2 linked regions of the Homo sapiens genome follow. The protein of the gene in region 2 purifies or fractionates together with the protein of the main gene of each other region. This does not show direct contact. Each region holds a gene or a part of one and is shown on either strand. Other genes may lie near its edges.

The links.
Region 1: the proteins of IRAK3 (region 2) and IRAK2 purify together in Homo sapiens (co-immunoprecipitation; 2 studies listed by BioGRID and IntAct, with this or other methods). This does not show direct contact.

The regions. Positions count from the first base shown.
Region 1 is NC_000003.12:10,167,748-10,175,560, reverse strand, and holds part of IRAK2 (interleukin-1 receptor-associated kinase-like 2), read right to left. Parts: intron 1-7,813. UniProt on the Homo sapiens protein: Binds to the IL-1 type I receptor following IL-1 engagement, triggering intracellular signaling cascades leading to transcriptional up-regulation and mRNA stabilization.
Region 2 is NC_000012.12:66,184,688-66,192,447, forward strand, and holds the start of IRAK3 (interleukin-1 receptor-associated kinase 3), read left to right. Parts: upstream 1-4,526; 5' UTR 4,527-4,612; coding exon 4,613-4,745; intron 4,746-7,760. UniProt on the Homo sapiens protein: Putative inactive protein kinase which regulates signaling downstream of immune receptors including IL1R and Toll-like receptors.

The DNA.
Region 1 (7,813 bases), on a different chromosome or scaffold from region 2:
GCTGCTCTCGCACTCCTCGCCTCAAGCAATCTTCCCACCTCAACCTCTTAAAGTGCTGGGATTGCAGGTGTGAGCCACCATGCCTCACCTGAGATTCTGCATCCTGGTCTTATTTATTAACATTATACCACAGGGACTGGGCACAGTGGCTCATGCCTATAATCCTAGCACTTTGGGAGGCTGAGGCAGGTGGATCACCTGAGGTCAGGAGTTCGATACTAGCCTGGCCAACATGGTGAAACCCCGTCTCTACTAAAAATACAAAAATTAGCCAGGTGTGGTAACACACGCCTGTAATCTCCCAGCTACTCGGGAGGCTGAGGTAGGAGAAATCACTTGAACCTAGGAGGTGGAGGTTGCAGTGAGCTGAGATCGTGCCACTGCACTCCAGCCTGAGCGACAGAGACTGAGTCTCAAAAATATAAAAATTAAAAATAAATAAAAATTTAAAAATCTTTTTTTTTTTTGAGACAGGGTGTCACTCTGTTGCCCAGGTGGCATGAGTACAGTGGTGCAAACATGGATCACCACAGCCTTGGCCTCCCAGGCTCAAGCAATCCTCCCACCTCAGCCTCCCCAGCAGCTGGGATGACAGACACACCACCATTCCTGGCTAATTTTTTTTTTTGGTACAGGCATGAACCACTGTGCCTGGCCCATAAATGGATTTTTATGACCAGTATTCCACTGGTTTACTGAAGTGAGAAAGGCATTTTTATTAAAACTAGGAGTAATCAGCCGGGTGCAGTGGTTCATGCCTGTAATCCCAGCACTTTGGGAGGCTGAGGTGGGCGGATCACCTAAGTTCAGGAGTTCGAGACCAGCCTGGCCAACATGGTGAACTCCCATCTCCACTAAAAATACAAAAATTAGCCAAGCGTGGTGGTGCCCACTTGTAGTCCCAGCTACGTGGAAGGCTGAGGCAGGAGAATCACTTGAACCCGGGAGGCAGAGGTTGCAGTGAGCCGAGATCACGCCACTGCACTCCAGCGTGGGCAACAGAGTGAGACTCCATCTCAAAAAAATAAAACAAAACAAAACAAAAAAATATATAAACATAGGTGGGCCGAGTAGAAGAAGGGAAGGCAAGAGATGAAGCCCAGGACCACATAACAAAGACCCTCAAGTGAATGCCCAGCTTTGGAGTTTGGACTTGATCCTAAGAGTTACAAGGGACCACAGAAAATTTCAGAGCCAGTGAGTGCTGTGACCAGATTGCACAATCCCCTACCCTTTGGACAAAATGGGCTGGTGACAGTCTCCTGCACACAGAAAGCCTCCAGGAGAAGTGCCCAATTAAGATGGAAAGTTCCTAAATTGCTATGTTAGTCACTGGAAACCCCAGGCCAGATTGCTGGTCAGTGGGAAGTGATGTCAGCTGGGTCAGCGGCTGCTTCTAGCAATACAGAGAAGAGAACGGATGGAAAAGGAAGGACCATCTCCCCCCACGAAGCATTGGTCATCCACACACACTCCCATCTTGGGAGGCAGCATGACGTAATGGGAAAACAGAAGCCCAGGGCCACCCCTCGTGGGTGGCAGCAGGAACTCAGCCACAGCCTGACTCTCTGTGGGCTGAACTTTCCTTACTCGTGATGGTAATACAAGAGAAACAGGAATTAAACTCTAAGGTGCCTTCCAGCTTAGACATTTTTGTTCCATGACGGTGCCATATCTTAAGGTGTTGACCAATCAGCATTTAACCAGACCCTTTATTTATTTTATTTAGTTTTTTTCAGACGGAGTCTTGCTCTGCTGCCCAGGCTGGAGTGCAGTGGCGTGATCTCAGTTCACTGCAGCCTATGCCTCCCAGGTTCAAGCAATTCTCCTGCCTCAGCCTCCCAAGTAGCTGGGGCTACAGGGCATGTGCCACCACTCTCGGCTAATTTTTTGGTATTTTTAGTAGAGATGGAGTTTCACTATCTTGGCCAGGCTGGTATCAAACTCCTGAGCTCAAGTGATCCACCCTCCTTGGCCTCCCAAAGAGCTGGGATCACAGGCATCAGCCACCGTACCCAGTCTCAACCAGACCCTTTAGAGTCGGGACATGATAGAGATCTTGAGGGGATGAGTCACTACCAAGGCCTTCTGCTAAGCTGCAGCTTTTTTCTCAGCATGGACAGGTAATAGCTGGTCATCGTAGAATATTTGGGAAACAAGAAAATGAAAGTCCCCATGATTATCCCACTTGGAGGACTCCAAGGACACCACCAGTTACATTTTGGTGTCTAATCTTCCAGACTTTTTCTACAGATATGAAAACATGTGCGAAAGTCAGCAGGACAGTAGTGGTGGTTCAGAGGCCAGATATTGGGATTCGGGGCCTGGGTTCAAATCCTGTCTCTGCTGCTTACTTGCTGTGTTTTTGGGGAAGGTGTTCATCTCCCCCTGAGCCTCAGTTTCCTCATCTGTCAAACAAGGATAACAGCAGCACCTGCCTCCGAGATTGTTGCAAGGATTAGATGAGTTCTATGTACAGAAGCACTCAGAACAGTGCTTAACACACAATAAACATGATATAAGTATTAGCTGTAAGTGTTAAACTATCTACATTCTATGAAAACCTGTTTTTCATAGAGTTTGGCCAGGTGCGGTGGCTCACGCCTGTAATCCCAGCACTTTGGGAGGCCAAGGCAAGCGGATAACGAGGTCAGGAGTTTGAGACCAGCCTGGCCGACATGATGAAACCCCGTCTCTACTTTTTTTTTTTTTTTTTTTTTTTTGAGACAGAGTCTCGCTCTGTTGCCCAGGCTGGAGTGCAGTGGCGCGATCTTGGCTCACCACAACCTCCACCTCCTGGGTTCACACAATTCTCCTACCTCAGCCTCCCGAGTAGCTGGGACTACAGGCATGTGCCACCATGCCCAGCTAATTTTTGTATTTTTGGTAGAGACGGGGTTTCACTATGTTGGCCAGGCTGGGCTCAAACTCCTGACCTCGTGATCCACCCACCTCGGCCTCCCAAAGTGCTGGGATTACAGGCATGAGCCACCGCGCCCGGCCTTTTTTTTTTTTTTTTTTTTGAGTCGGAGTTTTACTCTTGTTGCCCAGGCTGGAGTGCAATGGCACATGTCAGCTCACTGCAACCTCCACCTCCCAGGTTCAAGCAATTCTCCTGCCTCAGCCTCCCGAATAGCTGGGATTACAGGCGAGTGCCATCACACCTGGCTAATTTTTTGTTTGTTTGTTTTTTTGAGACGGAGTCTCGCTCTGTCGCCCAGGCTGGAGTGCAGTGGTGCGATCTCTGCTCACTGCAAGCTCCACCTCCCAGGTTCACACCATTCTCCTGCCTCAGCCTCCTGAGTAGCTAGGACTACAGGCGCCTGCCACCATGCCCGGCTAATTTTTTTTTTTAGTAGAAACGGGGTTTCACTGTGTTAGCCAGGATGGTCTCAATCTCCTGACCTCATGATCCACCCACCTCAGCCTCCCAAAGAGCTAGGATTACAGGCATGAGCCACCGCACCTGGCCAATTTTCATATTTTTAGTAGGGACAGAGTTTCACCATGTTGGCCAGGCTGGTTTCGAACTCCTGACCTCGTGGTCCTCCCACCTTGGCCTCCCAAAGTGCTGAGATTACAGCCGTGAGCCACTACGCCCAGCCCATCTCTACTGAAAATGCAAAAACTAGCAGAGTGTGGTGGCGGGCGCCTGTAGTCCCAGCTACTCTGGAGGCTGAGGCAGGAGAATCACTTGAACCCAGGAGGCCGAGGTTGCAGTGAGCTGAGATTGCATCATTGGACTCCAGCCTGGGCAACAGAGTGAGACTCCGTCTCAAAAAAAAAAAAAAGGCTGGGTGCAGTGGCTCACGCCTGTAATCCAAACACTTTGGGAGGCTGAGGCGGGCGGATCACGAGGCTGGTCTCAAACTCTTGGCTTCAAGAAATTTTCCCACCTAGGCCTCCCAAAGTGTTGAAATTAGAGGCGTGAGCCACTGCACCTGGCCTGAAAATGTTTTTATCCCTGATGATTAACAGTACAGGGACTATCACTCTTGAGTTCCTGAATCCTGCAGGAGTTCACCCGAGGCAGTAGAAAACCTTGCCTGTCTTCAAAGTCCTCCACAGCAGGGATGGCACAGCCTCCTGAAATGACCCATCTTAGAATCGAATGCCCACACCCCTCCCTGGGTGGGGGATGAGGAAAGCCCTAACTTGACCCTTTACAATAAGCTGAGTCTCCTAAGCCTCTCAGCAACACTGTGAGGGTGCTTCATGGATGAGGAAACTAAAGGCTCAGAGAGAGATAGTCACCTGCCTGATGTCACACAGCTGGGCAGGGCAAAGCAGGGCTGTGCACAAAGGCTGGCACACGCATGAGTGAACGAGACGGGGAACGGCCACACACAGAAGAGCCCCTGCGCCGAGCCCCTCTGCACACACCTGGGGCTGAAGCTGTAGGAAACCCTTTTTACACAGGCTCAGGCAAAGCCCAACAGAGGCAGCTGCCATCACGGAGACAAGAACTAGGCGTGGCCAGATTATCTGCCAACAAGTGTCGGATCTGAAAGAGCGTGGCTGTCTGTGGCTGCGGGATCTTCTGAATCACTTTAGCGTTCTCACTACACTCTCCCAGTATCACCATCAGCTCTGAGGGACTGTCTTCTTTCTAAAATGACCCACAGGAAGCCAAGAATTTTTAGGACTGAAGGGTCAATCACAGTCACTCGTTCATTCAGCTGAAGAGGGAACTGGAGCACTGGGACTGGGCGAGGAGCAGTGGGCCGGAGGCACCGCTGGCTCTGATCCAGTGTAGGAAGTGGGCTGACCAAAGGCTCCAGGCCAGCTCCAATGGGTAAGAGTGGGCAGCCCGCATCCTCACCACACCAAGGCCTGGCAGCTCATCATTCATTCTGGCACCTGCCCTCTAGCCAGGCACTGTCCCAGGCTCTGGGAATACAGCAGTGAAAAACTAGACAGGTAAGGCCCCTGCCCGCACGGGGCTTCCATTCCATAGGGAGAGACAGGTGGAAAAAATTCAGGAACGAGGGGACATCAAAGGCTGTGAAGCGGAATGAGGGAAATGAAACACGGTGATGGGCTAGAGAGGAACAGGGGCAGGAAAGTCCTCTTGATTTCAAAGAGGTGCCACAGGAGCTTACCTGAAGGACTGTGACAGACAGAATAATACCCTTGGAAAACATCCACATCCTAAGCCCCGAGACCTGTGAATATGGTACCTTACATAGCAAAAGGGACTTTGCAGGTTAGATTAAATCAAGGATTCTGAGATGAGATTATCCTGGATTCTCTGGGTCTGGCCAAGGTAATTACCAGGGTCCCTGTAAGGGGGAGGCCAGAACATCAGATTCAGAGATGAGGTGATGGTAGAAGCAGAAGTCACAGAGACAGATGTGATGATACACACCCATGGCCTTGATGATGGAGGAAGGGGCCATAAGCCACAGGATGCTGCAGGCCTCAGGAAGCCAGTCAAGGCCAGGAGACCGACTCCTCCCTAGAGCCACCCTGAGTTAGGACTTCTGACCTCCAGAATGCTGAGATAATAAACTTGAGGTGTTACAGGCCACCAACTTTGTAGTGTTGTGGGAAGTCAGGGGCCCCGAACAGGACCGGCTGAAGCCACGGCAGAAGAATACAACTTGTGAAGATTTCATGGACATTTATCAGTTCCCAAAATTAATACTTTTATAATTTCTTACGTCTGTCTTTACTGCAATCTCTGAACATAAATTGTGAAGATTTTATGGACATTTATACTCTTATAATTTCCTATGCCTGTCTTTAATCTCTTAATCCCATCATTTTCATAAGCTGAGGATGTATGTCACCTCAGGACCCTGTGATGATTGCATTAACTGTATAAATTGTTTGTAAAACGTGTGTTTGAAAAATATGAAATCTGATTGTAAAACGTGGGTGTTTAAACAATATGAAATCAGGGCACCCTGAAAAAGAACAGAATAACAGTGATGTTCAGGGAACAAGGGAAGATAACCATAAGGTCTGACTGCCTGTGGGGTCGGGCAGAATAGAGCCATATTTTTCTTCTCACAGAGAGCCTATAGATGGACGTGTGAGTAGGAGAAATATCGCTGAATTCTTTTCCCAGCAAGGAATATTAATAATTGATAACCCTGGGGAAGGAACGCATTCCCGGGGTAGGTCTATAAATGGCCACTCTGGGGGTGTCTGTCTGATGCAGTTGAGATAAGGGATGAAATATGCCCTGGTCTCCTGCAGTGCCCTCAGGCTTACTAGGATTGGGAAATTCCAGCCTGGTGAATTCTAGTCAGACGGGTTGTCTGCTCTCCAACCCTGTTTCCTGTTAAGATGTTTATCAAGACAATGCGTGCCCAGTGGGACATGGACCTTCACCAGTAATTCTAATTTCACCTTTGCCTTGTGATCTTTTATTGCCCTTTGAAGAATGTGATCTCTGGGACCTACTCCCTATTCGTACACCCCTCCCCTTTTGAAATCCCTAATAAAAACTCGCTGGTTTTGTGGCTCGGGGTCACCATCACGGTCCTACCAATGTGTAACAGCACCCCCAGAGGCCTAGATGTAAAATTTCTCTCTTTGTACTCTTTATTTCTCAGACCGGCCGACACTTAGGGAAAATAGAAAAGAACCTACATTGAAATACTGCGGGCTGGTTCCCCTGATATTGTAGTAATCTATAACTGCAACAGGAGGAAACTAATAGACTAGAAAGCTAGCCCCAGGTAACACAGGGGGAAGAACGTCCCAGGCAGAGGGAACAGCACCTGCAAAGACCCTGTGTCTGGCCCAGGGAGGTCAGTGTGGCTGGAGCAGGGGAGTGACAGTGGGTGTGGAAGAAGAGGAGGTCAGAGAGGCCAGCACTGGGCAGATGTGTCAGAGTCAACATGCCTGGCAAGGTGTTCAGATCATATCCATCCCAGTGGGGAGCCTCGCAGAGGTATTCTCCAAAGAAGATGTGCAAATGGCCAACAAGCACAGGAAAAGATGCTCCACAGCATTAGTCATTAGGGAAATGCAAATCAAACCACAGTAAGATGCCACTTCACACTGGCTCAGGTGGCTACCATCAAAAAAGCAACAATAAGGCCGGACATGGTGCTCACACCTGTAATCCCAGCACTTTGGGAGGCCGAGGCGGGCAGATCACCTGAGGTTAGGAGTTTGAGACCAGCCTGGCCAACACGGTGAAACCCTGTCTCTACTGAAGATACAAAAATTAGTCAGGCACGGTGGTGCATGCCTGTAATCCCAGCTACTTGGGAGGCTGAGGCACAAGAATCGCTTGAACCCAGGAGGCTAAGGTTGCAGCGAGCCGAGATCATGCCACTGCACTCCAGCCTCAGCGACAGAGCGAGACTCTGTCTCAAAAAAAAAAAAATTAAAAAAAGAAAAAAATAACACATGTTGACAAGGATGTGGAGAAATGGTCATCCTCATACACTGGTGGTTCAGCCACTTTAGAAAACATCTGGTAGCTCCTCAAATAGTTAAACATAAAGCCAGATGCAGTGGCTCACACCTGTAATCCCAGCAATTTGGGAAGGTGAGATGGGCAGATCGCTTGAGCTCCAGAGTTCAAGATCAGCCTGAGTAACATGGTGAAACCTGTCTCTACAAAAAATACAAAAGTTAGCTGGGTGCAGCAGTGCACACCTGTAGTCCAGCTACTCAGGAGACAGGAAGATCGCTTGAGCCCAGGAAGTTGGGGCTGCGGTGAGCTACATTTGCACCACTGCACAAAATCTTGTATGTGAGTGTTCACAGCAGCACTATTCACAATGGCCCAAAAGTGAAAAGAACCCAATGCCCAACAACTGATAAATGAATGAAATGTAGTATATCCATA
Region 2 (7,760 bases):
GTGAAAAATATAAGAGAATGTGGTGTCCTAGAAGTCAAATGAAGAAAGTTTCCAAGGAGGGGGTGATCAACTGTATCAAAACTACCAATAGGTCAAGTAAGTGAGGACTGGAAATTAATTATTTTACGTAGCAATGATGTGGACATGTGTGACCCTGAAGAGAATAGTTTTAGTGGAGTAAAGTGGGAGGGGTGCTTCTAATTAGAGTTGGTTTAAGAGAAGATGGGAGGAGAACATTGGACACAGTGAGAATATTCAGCTCGACACTGCAAAGGGGAGCAAAGAATTGGGGCCAAAGACAGAAGGGGGAAGTGGCATCAAAAATTTTGGTTTGCATGGAATACTATGCAGCCATAAAAAATGATGAGTTCATGTCCTTTGTAGGGACATGGATGAAACTGGAAACCATTATTCTCAGCAAACTATCGCAAGGACAAAAAACCAAACACCACGTGTTCTCACTCATAGGTGGGAATTGAACAATGAGAACACATGGACACAGGAAGGGGAACATCACACACCAGGGCCTGTTGTGGGGTGGGGGGAGTGGGGAGAGATAGCATTAGGAGATATACCTAATGCTAAATGATGAGTTAATGGGTGCAGCACACCAACATGGCACATGTATATGTATGTAACAAACCTGCACGTTGTGCACATGTACCCTAAAACTTAAAGTATAATAATAATAAAATTTAAAAAAATTTTGGTTTAAGTTGAAAGAAACAACATCATATTTGTATGCTGATGGAATTGAGGTGGTAAAGAGTGAAAAACTGATCATGTAACAGGGACCAGGGAAAGCATGTGCCCTTGATGCCTTTGAAATGGTAATAGGGATAGGATCCAGTGCACAAACGAAGTATAATGATTTACATAGGACCCTAGATAATTCATCCATGGAAAACACGAAGAAAGAGTATGTTGGCAAAGATGCTAGTAGATAGTTCGATGTAGTAGTGAGATTCCGTGGAAGTTTTTTCCTGATGCATCAGTATTCTCAATAAATATTCTCAAGATAATTGGTGGAGGACAGGATGATGGGAGTTGAGAAAAAAGAAAGTATAGCATAGCTTTCAAGGAGACCAGAAGAATGCATGGGCTAAAGGTGCATAGTATGCTTGTCCAGTGGCATAAAGGACCCACTTGAGAGTCTTGGCCTTGATTTTAAATTGAGTTCAATTAACAGGATTTTGGTTTTCCACCCCGTTCCCCAGCTACACTCAGGTGCATGGGTGTGGAGCCAACTTAGAAAATTGGATTTAATCAGAATTGCAAACTTGCCAAGAGAGCTCAACAAAGTGAGAGAGGAGCAAGGGAATGTAGAGCATATGCAAAGGAGTGAATAAAATAATTGACCACAGACTTAATGGATAAGCAGAAAAGTCAGGATGTCAAGAGGGTGGAGCCAGAAAAGAGGCAGCAAGATTTTGGATTGGATATCTGGTGAAGGGACAGGATTGTTGGGGTCAGAGTACTAGAGGGAATGTGCTAGAAAGACAGGAGGTATGATCAGAGAGTGGATTCATGAAAGAAATTATAGATGGGATGCAGCTATTGATAATGACAAATTCTAGGGGACGCTCATGGGAGTAAGTGTCTGAAATGGAGCATTGGGTGGAGTACAATGTCACCAGAGAAGAGGAGTCAAGGAAATGAGAGGCCAGGGCATTGGAAAGATCACCATCTATTCTACATATATATATATATATATGTGTGTGTGTGTGTGTGTGTGTGTGTATGTTTTAATTTTGTTTCATCAACTTTTATTTTAAGTTCTAGGGTACATGTGCAGGATGTGCAGTTTGTTACATAGGTAAATATGTGCCATTGTGGTTTGCTGCACAGATGATCCCACCACCTAGGTATTAAGCCCAGCATCTATTAGCTATTGCTTCTGATTCACTGCCTCCCCCTACCCCCTCCCCTGACAGGCCCCAGTATGCATTGTTCCCCACCAAGTGTCCATGTGTTCTCATGGTTCAGCTCCCACTTATAAGTGAGAACATGCAGTATTTGATTTTCTGTTCCTGTGTTAGTTTGCTGAGGATAATGGCCTCCAGCTCTATCCCTATCCCTGCAAAGGACATGATCTCATTCCTTTTTATGGCTGCATAGTATTCCATGGTGTATACATACCACGTTTTCTTTATCCAGTCTATCATTGATGGGCATTTGGCTTGATTCCATGTCTTTGCTATTGTGAATAGTTATTCTACATATATTTTAAATCACTGAGAACTAAGATAGGATTAGTACTGGAGAGAGCAACAATGAGCCAGGAGCTAGAGAGTCTAAAAACGAGGAGAAGGAATTGGAGTCGGGGAGATCAGCAGTTGATAGCAACCATGATGATACAACCTGATGATATAAAAATCAAAACTCAAGACAGTTTTAGGAATAGGAAGGCAACATGGTCTGAGAACGACTGCCAACACTGAAAATACAGGAAATTTCACATACTCTAGCTTTCACTTAGGATCCTTGCTTCTTGGTAAATTACAAGATCTGGTAAAGCAGGCCTTTCTGATTGCTTCCCTCATCTGCAGTGATTTCCTGTTTCCTCTGAGTGAGTTTGCCTCCCTGTAGTAGCAATTCAAAAGCTACCAAATAATTAATGGCCTTTTGCCTCTGTTGCTCAGCATGTTCAGGTAGTCCCTTTAAGAGATGTATAGAGGGCCGGGTGTGGTGGCTCATGCCTGTAATCCCAGAACCTTGGGAGGCCTAGGGAGGTGGATCACTTGAGCCCAGGAGTTTGAGACCAGATTGAGCAACATGGGAAAACCCCGTCTCTACAAAAACTACAAAGGTTAGCCAGGCATGGTGGCATGCACCTGTAGTCCCAGCTGTACTGGAGGCTGAGGTGGGAGGATGGCTTGAGCCCAGGGGGTGGAAGTTGCAGTGAGCCGAGATCGCACCATTGCACCCCAACCTGGGCAATCAGAGCGACTAAAAAAAACAAATAAGAAAGAAAGGAGGGAAGGAAGGAAGAAAGGAGGGAAGGAAGGAAGGAAGGAAGGAAGGTAGGTAGGTGTACAGTGTGTACAGATTGACAATAAAACCTTGAACAACGGGATATCGAAATTCTTGCCCACACAGTATGGGCTTTGCCAGTTTTCAGATACATTTTTATGAAGTATTTTCGCTGGCAAAACCATTCAGGTAGGGGCATGAAATGATAGTGTTTCATCACTCGTGATCTCTAGGGGCAGCTATTCCAAAGACTACAATCTGAGAGGTTTCAAAACACCTCTGGTGTTTTCACTTGATGGCCACTGCCCACTCTTCCAGTCACTAAGGCTGAGATTTTTCTCACCACTTTCAAAACAACTTTTTGTCACTGGTAACATGCCTCATGTGACCTAGAAGATTTTGAAACAACAATTTTACTTAAACTCCGTGAAGATTTCAAAACAACAATTTTACTTAAACTCCATGTTGAAGGCAAAAAGGAAGATTGTGTGAAGCACTTTGAGGAAGGAAAAAATGATGGAACGATATTTCATCAAGGAAGCCCATGAGGAAGAAAATTTATTAAAACCAAGTAGGTGTATGGAGGAGAGGCCGCCTCGTGAAGAAAACGAACATAATTTTACGCTGATTTGGTGTCTTTTCTGTTTTTCTCTTGTTGGTATCTACATTCATCTTTTCCAATAATAATCCCATATATGTACATTTTTATCTGTTTAAATTCAGTAAAAGTTGGGAGGAAAATGTGTCAAAACTTTTAGAGTGTGATGGGCTGAGTGGGGTTGTGAGTGATTATCTTCTTTTTTCAGTTTTTTTCTGGGTTTTCCAAGTGTTCCTCGATGAACATGGATAGTTTTTCTGACAGGATAAAAAAGAAGTAGTCCGGGACAGTGGCTAACACCCCGAATCCCAGCACTTTGGGAAGCCGGAGGTGGGAGGATCGCTTGAGGCCAGGAGTTTGAAACCAGCCTGGGCAGCATAACGACACTCCCTCTCTACGAAAAACGAAAAAAAATAATTAGCCGGACGTGGTGGCGTGCGACTGTGGTCCCAGCTACTCGGGAGGCTGAGGTGGGAGGATCGCTTGAGCCCAATAGGTGGAGGCTCCGTGAGCTGAGATAGCGCCACTGCGCTCCTGCCTGGGCGACAGAGTGAGAACCTGACTCAAAACAAAGAAAAAAGGAAGAAAAGAAAGGAAGGGAAGAAGGAAGGAAGGGAGAAGCTTTCAAAAATAAACTTTTGTAAGAAGTAATGACACCGCTAGCCGTCCACACCAGGAGACCGCCTAGCCGTGGGGCACGGTGGGCTCCTGGGAGCTCTGAGCTCTGGGCTTTCTCCAGTTCGCACTCTGCTTGTCTCGGCAGCTCCGTCCCCACCGCAGAGGTGTGAAGGGGCGCAAAGCCAGCGAAGGGAGAACCCGGGTCGGGTAACCCCCAGGCCTGGCCAGGCGGACGCAGGGGCATCTCGGGCGAGGCGCGCCTTGCGTCACGTGGGCACCGCCCCTGCAGTGACCGGAGAACGGCGTGTTCCTAGGGCTCTGCTGCCGTCGTGGAAGCAGGATTTCCGCGGTTGTGTAACGGCCTGTCGCAGGCGTGCAGGGACCTGGACTCCGCCTCGTCCCCGGGGCTCGGGCAGCCGAGCCATGGCGGGGAACTGTGGGGCCCGCGGCGCGCTGTCGGCGCACACGCTGCTGTTCGACCTGCCGCCCGCGCTGCTCGGAGAGCTCTGCGCTGTTCTGGACAGCTGCGACGGCGCGCTGGGCTGGCGCGGCCTGGGTGAGTCGGCGGGGACCGGCCGGGGGCGGCGGGGGAGCCCAGCGCGCCGCGGGGCCCGCTCGGCGTCGCCCTGCATGGCTGGGGTCCCTCGCGGGGCTGGCGCGGCCTCCGGGAAGTTCCCGCCAGGGAGCCGGCCCCCTCCTTTCCTGGGTTGGATGCAGAGACTCCCTGGGACCCAGATGCCTTCCCTCCCTTCTCTTTCAAAGAATTTTGGGTATCGCTGCAAAGTCAAGGGAGCCGAGGCCTGGGAAAGACAGATAACCAGCGTGAAAGCATCTTCTGTTCGTCCGCGATGCCACCCTCACTGGGTTCGCAATGTATGATGTCTTCTGGTCCTTGCAAAATCACCCCAGAACATCATTTTAGTATTGAGACATTTTTAGAACTTTGAGATACTTATCCTTTGGTGTTTTCAATGCATCCCTAAGCCCCTAACTTAATTACAAGTGAAATGCTAAAGTAAACTACGGTTTGCAATGAACGCGGCTCCTAATTTTCTTAATTAAATCTTATTTACCCAATTTCGTTGAATGAAGGTTTATGCTAAAGGGTGGCTTTTTATTTTAATCTAAAAAAATTGGCTTCAGAACTGTATTTTATGCAGACATTGGAAAGTTGAGCAACTGCCTGCTGGAAGTGTTGAGTGTAGCCAGAGATAATTCGGACAAAAATCTTCGTTTTGTTAAGTACAGGCATTTTTGGTTAGATTTGATATTCCACAATGTCATGTTTAATGTTTATTGAAAAGAATCATGATTATGTCAAAATAACTTAGCTTTAATGGTCTGAAATAGGATTTTTCTTACCAGGACTAGCAGAAGGCCTAAGAGGAGAGTTTTCTTTGTTACTGATGAACAGTATGGTGACAGTCTTTGAATTGTAGCAATGGGCTTCTGGTTATACAAAAAATGTTTATATATTTTAAGCTCTGTAATTTTAAGTTATGGCCCTTAAGAAAAAAAAAAAAGTCTGATTTCTAGAAAACGAGATTTCCAGTGTGCATTTGAGGGATTTTGAGGGATAAGGTCACTTCCCCATCAGATCTTTTTGAGATGGATTTTGGCGTGGACAGTATTTATACCCGTTGATTTCCTAGAGTTACTGACTTTGAGAAAGAAAAGTGTTTTTAGTCCAGTTTAATGTTGGTGAATGGGGCCAGGTGGGTGTGGTAAATTAGTGAGGCAGATTATTCTCTCTCTTTCTGTTGATAGCATTGAAATCCAGATATTCATGCTTTACATGGCTTGTCTCATATAACTTCTCCAATTACTCTGTGAGTCATTATCATCGCCAGTGTTTTTTTAACAGGTCAGGAAACTGGTACAAATTGGTTAAGTAACTTGTTCAGGTTCACCAGCTGGAAATGGAAGAGCCAGGATCTGAACCATGGTAGTCTGGATCCAAGGCTTATGTCCTTAACCCCAGCTACTCTACACTTCTCCCCTTACTGCTGTGTTCTTTCTGGCCACATCTAACAGCCTCCCTAAAGTACAGACATTTCTGGCATCAAAGAACAATTCAGTGATCCATTTCAAGCATGCAGCCCTATTTTCCTAGTGGTGAAAATGAATGAGGACCACCCAAATGAGAACAAACAAAAGCTATTTTTTTCAAAGCAAGGGAGCCAGCACCATTGCTTGTGTTTGGCAGAGACTCAAAAGCAGACAGAGGATGGAGGAGGGTGGGAGAAGAAGGCTTCAGCTGTGTCCTGATTGGAGGCTGTTGATATGGGGAAGCTGTAGTTGAGCTACCTAAAAGGGGGTATTTTGTGTGTTTGTTTAGGGGTACATAATTGGCTTTCTCTGGTTGGCCCTAAGTTGGAAGTAGGAGCAAAAATTGAGGAAGTGGTCAGTAATTATTCAAGTCCTGGCCATTTGAGACAGGTTGCTACAGGGGTTCTTGTTTGGCTGCCTGGGCTAGTTGCTACAGTTTAACCCAGTTACTGATAGTTTAACTTGTTAGATACTGTAGACGGTAGGTTGGTTTCTTGGACTGGTTGATGTACATTGCCTGCAGAGTTCTATTTTTATATATAAGCTGGCCATTGTCCCTTTGTGTATTCATTCTCTCACAGGGAAAGGGTCTAAAATGTTTACTCCATGATACTTCAGCTGTAATTCATTGTGCAGGTGGTCATGCCTACTGACTGCCTGGACTACTGAGCTGGCCCTGACCAGGTGCTGCACAAGTTCTTGGCTCAGCAAGAAGGCAAGGCTAGCCCAGTTCAGGGTGTTGAGGCAACTGCCTGTGCTAAACATGCCGAGTTTTCCTGTGGGCACAGCGAAGGGAGAAAGAGGGGAAGAGGTGCAGGTAGGGAAAACTTGACCTTCGAGAGGGGAAGGAGAGTGACAGAGGACTGAATCAAAGAGGCAGTCCTTTGTATGCTCAGGACAGCTGACAGCCCAAGCTTAAATGTAGAAAACAACTGTAATATACTAAGTAAAGCTCTCTCGAGCCGATCGTGATTCTTGATGACGGTGAGTGTCAGGTTATGTTTACAAAGGCAGCTCATATAGCAGCCTATATGATATGACCAGTGTGTGCAGGATAAGGTAAGCCAGTCATTCACAAACACAAATCACCTATGCAGTCTTTTAAATACACAGATGCAGGTCCCACTCCTAGAGCTGCTGATTCAGGAAGTCTGGGTTGAGGGTCCAGCTTCTTTCATTTTTTGTCAAGCCCCAGGAGTGAGTCTGAGGCACAACCTGATTGGTAAGCCATTGCTTAGGCCAAATTCTCTTTTTTAATAGTGTCTTCATATAACAGATATTTTACTACATTCTTTCATTACTTCATTTAATTACTTTTATTTTTAAACATATTCTACATAGTACTCTTCAAATCACTTTTGTCAAGTATTGTTATTAAAAATAATGTAATCACAAGATAATATATTCTGTGGTTATCATTGATGACTTTATGGCTTTTAGTGAAAGCAAGAGCCCAAAAGCCCAAATGAAATATGTTGTTTACGTTACAGACATGATAACGTAGTACATACAGAACCTCTGG